Regions from separate parts of the Homo sapiens genome. Here region 2 is linked to region 1. The links come from fine-mapping of genetic effects on gene expression. A gene starts in region 1. The other region holds a variant in brackets. All regions are shown on one strand. Distances are between the middles of the regions. Region 1 holds the start of SNURF (SNRPN upstream open reading frame). Region 2 overlaps SNHG14 (small nucleolar RNA host gene 14).

Region 1 (2,819 bases):
GGAGTCTTGCCCTGTCACCAGGCTGGAGTGCAGTGGTGTGATCTCAGCTCACTGCAACCTCCGCCTCCCACGTTCAAGCAATTCTCCTGCCTCAGCCTCCCGAGTAGCTAAGATTACAGGCATGTGCCATCACGCCCAGCTAATTTTTCTGTTTTTTGTAGAGATGGGTTTCACCATGTTGGCCAGGATGGTCTCGATCTCCTGACCTCGTGATCTGCCCACCTCGGCCTCCCAAAGTGCTGGGAATACAGGCGTAAGCCACTGTGCCCAGCCTACATTTTATTTTTCGATTGACTCCCGTGATCAGAGTCAACTTCCCATGTTATTTTATGTGAATATGTATCAATGAACTATTAGAAATTGCAATGTTTTTGTAGGTCAAAACAATTCAATATTGACAATTTTATATGATTCAGCCTAATACATCATTTTTTCCATCAGCCATATTGCATGTTATTATTTATATATACGTTTATTTAGTTAGCCTATCTGTTCTCTGTGAGGAACATTACACAGTTTCTGAGATTTTGTTACGATAGAAGTCAGCATTGATAAGCCTCTGCGCACCTGTTTTAATGTAGGATCATTGGGAACTGAGCAGTAGCTTACAGGGCTTGGGAGGGGATTTAACCATTTAGTCAACCTCCACTCACATCACCCTCCCTTCTTCGATAATGGGCAATTGAGAAAGGGCAAATGTGTGTAAAAACTATGCAGATGCAGTTTCAGGATTATTTTCTTCTTTTCTGCAGTGTCTTTTCCCAAGCTACATCAGCGTCTAAATTTTGGAGTTACTGATGCTTCCGTTATTTCTGCAGATAGAATATTATGTCGTAAATAATGTTTACTTGTCCATTAGTATTATATAAAAGTGCCTGTTTCTCCCCACTCCAGCTATCATTGATTATTGGTAAAAATTTTAATGTATCCAATTCTAATAGGCAAAGAAAGGCTCTCCTACTTAGATCTTAGGTGGGGGTCTAAGTTCATATTTTTGTTTTACAAAAATTGAATAGCCAGTGTTTTTGAGTTGAATGATCTATCCATTCCGTATAGGAGAGTTTAATTATATTGTGATTTTGGGGGAGATAATTTTCACAATTTACCCCCTCAAAATGTAGAAAGTAGAAAAAGGGTAGAAAAATCGCACCAAATTTGAACAATGTAGCATGCTTTTAGAGTTAGGGATATTTTCTTTTGGAAGGATTTCAAGTCTGGCGTATTTGCATTGATTGTGGTTATGGCGCATTTAACTTTTCCAAACCAGCTTTTTTGTACCGCACATAGGAAGACCTGAGGGTGAGTGTAAATTAGGATTGTTTGGCCAGTGGTGTGTGCAAAAATTTATTGTAGAACCAAGAATTATTTCTTTAGTATTTTACACATTTTAAAAAACAGGTAGACATGTCCATTGATCCCAGGTTGCTTATGGTTTCTAGAGGCCCCCTCTCATTGCAACAGTGCTGTGGGGCCCTAGGGGTCCAGTAGCCCCCTCCCCCCAGGTCATTCCGGTGAGGGAGGGAGCTGGGACCCCTGCACTGCGGCAAACAAGCACGCCTGCGCGGCCGCAGAGGCAGGCTGGCGCGCATGCTCAGGCGGGGATGTGTGCGAAGCCTGCCGCTGCTGCAGCGAGTCTGGCGCAGAGTGGAGCGGCCGCCGGAGATGCCTGACGCATCTGTCTGAGGAGCGGTCAGTGACGCGATGGAGCGGGCAAGGTCAGCTGTGCCGGTGGCTTCTCTCAAGAGACAGCCTGGGGAGCGGCCACTTTTATTCATCAGATATTCCAAGTTTTTAGGACTTGGAGTACTGAATAAACGGAATTTGGGCCCTAAAGTCCTTTGTTCTGGAGAACCAGATCCGGAATGTTCAGAGGCTTGCTGTTGTGCCGTTCTGCCCCGATGGTATCCTGTCCGCTCGCATTGGGGCGCGTCCCCCATCCGCCCCCAACTGTGGTGTCGCGACAGGTCCTATTGCGGGTGTCTGCGGTGGGAAGGGCGGTGGTGACTGGGAGCATGCGGGGTAACCGCAGTGGGCAAGGGACATGGGTGGAGGTGGGTACATCAGGGTGATTGCAGTTCCGTGTGGCGAGGGTACGTGGGGGGACCAGTGCATAGGGATTTTAGGCGGAGGTAGGTATATTGGAGTGATTGTGGCGGGGCGAAGGTACGTGAAGTGATCGGTATTTAGGGGGTGTTGAGCGCAGGTAGGTGTATAATAGTGACCACTGCGTGGTGGAGCAGGGTACGTGGGGCGACTGGGGGGGGAATTCGTCGCAGTGACCGAGGCGAGGAGGCTATGGCAGTGGACCAGGGGGATGAGTCGGTGTGACAGTGGTGGGGGTTGTGTTGGTGGTCGCGGCGCGGGGAGAGTCCGTAGGAAGTGGCTGGGAGGTAGGGGGAAGGCGGCGACAGTGGGTATTGGCGGCGGTGGGCATTGGCAGCGGGTAGGCATGGCGGTGGTGGACTTTGGCGGCGGTAGGCATGGCGGCGGTGGGCATGGCATGGAGGCGGTGGGCATGGCGGCCGCGGGGCCTGTCGCTGTCCGGAGTGACTAAGGGACGCTGAATGATTGCTGTGTAGAGGAGGGGGCATCAGAAGGGGCAGTAGCACAGTCCGCAGCCTTTAATTTTCCTGTGACCTGCGATGGTCATCTGGTTTGCCTACTGTGGTGGTGGTGCTTTTTTATTAAAACTGCGCAATGCCTACACTGCCGCAGGGGCTGCAGAAATGCGTGGAATCCTTGCGTACCCTTTAGGAACCCTCGCTTTAGAGGCTATGGCATAAGAAGACTGGAATGATGTGCAGAACTTGCATTTACAG
Region 2 (2,819 bases), 36 kb after region 1:
ATAGCAGAATTTGGAAATATGGTTCCAAAAGGCTAAATAGACTGACTTTTTTGATATTTTTCCCTTATAGGGAGAAAGAAACATTAACGGTTTATCAGATGCCTTGACTGTACTTTTTACTGCTTTGTCTTCAAGGCCTAGTGTAATAATTAACATCTAGTATGTGTTTGATGGATAGCCAATTTTTGCTTCATTGGTATGTTGTTACCACAGTCATTGGTAGAGTCAATATATGAATGAAGAAAGTATAACAAATTTGCCCTCTAGTAGAGTACAGGCAAAGTATGGCCGTCAGTTTCACCCTGATTTTTTTTCCTCCATTCTTTTTTAGGGTTTAGGTCAAGAACAAGGGCATTTCATTGTACCACATAGCTGAGAGTAGGGAATTGGGACATACTGTCTTGCTTTAAATTAAAGTTGTCTGTTTCATCAAGTAGAGAGGTTCCTAAGATATTGCCAGATTTCTGACTCGGGGTTTGTTAAAAATAGAAAAGGTAGTTCCTTAAGGTTGTATTTTATTGGATGCCTCCACCTGCTTCAGGCTAGCTCACTGGAGAATAAATATTCCAGGTTAAAAAAAAAAAAGCATGTGTTCACGTGAACTTGTCCTTTGAGCAAACCTGTTGGAAATCAAGAGGTCATTGCTGTTGGAGAGGATAAGAGGGTGTACTTGTTGGTGTGTTAAGAGTAGTTCACAACATAAAAATAAATGTAAATGCATCTATTATATTTGGGTTGGCAAAATATATTGGTTATTTACTCTGTTGATTCCTGTAGTGTACATAAATATGATCTACAACTCTGTGAACAAAAAGGCTTGAAAAATTGTTCTGAAAATGGACAAATCATGAACAGATAATTGAACAAGAAAATAAGCAGAAAGTAAATTTGTGAAATATTTCAAACTCATTTACATTCAGAAACATCTTTTTAAGATCACTGTGATACATTCGACTGTCAATTCTGAAGAGACGTATAAAGGAAATGCCAGCTAAGGAGCAAGGAAACAGCTTTCATTCATGGGCTAAATTGCAGCTTAAAAAAGATGGACCAGGATTATTTCCTTTAGAAACTTACTGTACAAAAGATACTGTTCACCCCATTAGAGAACTGATTTGAAGTTACTCTTCCCTGTGAGGGCTCTGTCATCTTAACTGTATTCACATACTTTCAACTGTTCCCCTTGCTGCTAACCTCAGGTTCTTTAGTTCATCTATCTGGCAGAGCTGATTTGGGGAAAACAAGACAAACCTT[C/G]TCAGGTTTTCTTAATAAATAAGCAGTTGTCATGTTTCAAGAGTTTTAGAAATGAGCAATAATCAAGGAAGAGGACAACGATTGCATACGTTTATAATATTTAGAACATCTTTTGCCACAATAAACACTGGAAACCACCCACTTGTGGACACCAAACATTTGGATTTGTATATTTTGTGGCATTCCCTCACTCTAATCCTCTCATCCTTAAAAATTTTCAGAAATTTTTGCAGCAACAAACACTGATTGCAACATATGATTTAGGGTAGATTTATGAACCATTTTTTCACTGAAATACATCAACAGGAGTGAGTAGTCTGAGTGACCACCCCAGCATGGAGAAAACTGTAGTTTACAGATTCTTCTGGAGCATTTTTATTTCTAGATTGCGGTGGAAGTCTAACCCCCCTTGGAGATGTCTGCCTTAAAGGGTCTTTGGCCAGGGTCCTCTGTAGAGCCATAGTCCAGATCTACTCTATTTGTGTGCTCCTTACAACATCAGAACAGCAACTCTCAATCCGGATTCATCCCCAGAATGCCGTCTGAGTCACAGCGTGGCAGGTGCATAAAGAATTATCTACTGAATTGAGAAACATTTCAAATATATAAAACTTGAAATATTTTGGGTAGTCTGTACAAACTCAAGTTGACAAGCCAACCCTGCAGGAATATATGGATAGAAGGGGAAGGATAACATGTTGAATTCAGCTACATGCCTCATCAGCTAGAAAACCTTGGAAGAAAGAAAGATAGATTGATACTTGCCTGAACTTCATCAACCAATAATATTTTTTTTCTTGCTATGGAGAGTCCACTCGCCTTTGGAAGATTTACCAGTAAAAGCCCTGCACATGATATACTTGTGTGCACATGCAATAAGGACATCATTCCCCAACTCCTGCTAGCATTGTGAAAGAGCTCCAAATATTCAAATAATATAAACTTTTTTTCGTGGACATTTAGCTTACGAGTTTGTTTAAATATGTGGGAAAATTATGTTTAGATAATAGTATTGAAATGAGAATGTAAGATACACATTGAATGATAAATGTGTATGAATTGTTCATTGTGCCTTAGGTAAGCCAGACAGTGAAATTAAATGTGTAATAGTTGTATTTTTTTGCATAATCTTGGAATGTAATTAGTTAAAAGCAAACACTTAGATTTTGAACATGAATCTGTTAAGCTTGTTAATGTAGTTGCTGTGGCTAAATAACTGGTTTCCTGGGGAAGCTTCTATTTGCTAGAATTTTATTCTGGAACAGTTGTTAGAAAGGAATTCTCAGGTCACCTTTTAAAGATATACACAATTCTGTATTCACTTTTTGAGTGCATAAGGGTAATAGAAAATGACATGGGAAGCGTTAATTAGAAAAAAAGGCATTTTGTTTATGTGCATTTGAGGATACAGTGTTTGAAGTTTCTAAATAATTGTTTTATGACATTTTCTTGGTACATAGATATTGCTAACAATTAGTTTGCTGAAGTATGTAGAAACATTTTAAGAAATGATTTTAGAAATATAATTGTTAAAGTACCTCTGATGTATATTAAAAATCCTTTTA

What was found. PIP is the estimated chance that this variant, and not a neighbour inherited with it, causes the effect.
Region 2: its variant is fine-mapped to the expression of SNURF in whole blood (TOPMed, PIP above 0.99).

What each region holds. Positions count from the first base shown.
Region 1 is chr15:24,953,348-24,956,166 of GRCh38, forward strand. It overlaps SNURF (SNRPN upstream open reading frame), which reads left to right and starts at 1,640. Exons shown (of 3, transcript NM_001394334.1): 1 at 1,640-1,715. The coding sequence starts at 1,702. SNRPN (small nuclear ribonucleoprotein polypeptide N) reads left to right here and starts at 1,640. Exons shown (of 10, transcript NM_003097.6): 1 at 1,640-1,715. The region is part of intron 4 of SNHG14 (small nucleolar RNA host gene 14); the gene reads left to right. RefSeq lists enhancers at 2,055-2,620, 2,621-2,819.
Region 2 is chr15:24,988,925-24,991,743 of GRCh38, forward strand. The region is part of intron 15 of SNHG14 (small nucleolar RNA host gene 14); the gene reads left to right. Among named protein-coding and RNA genes, the nearest start is that of SNORD108, 3.4 kb to the left of the region's middle. The variant C/G (reference allele first, on the strand shown) is at 1,255.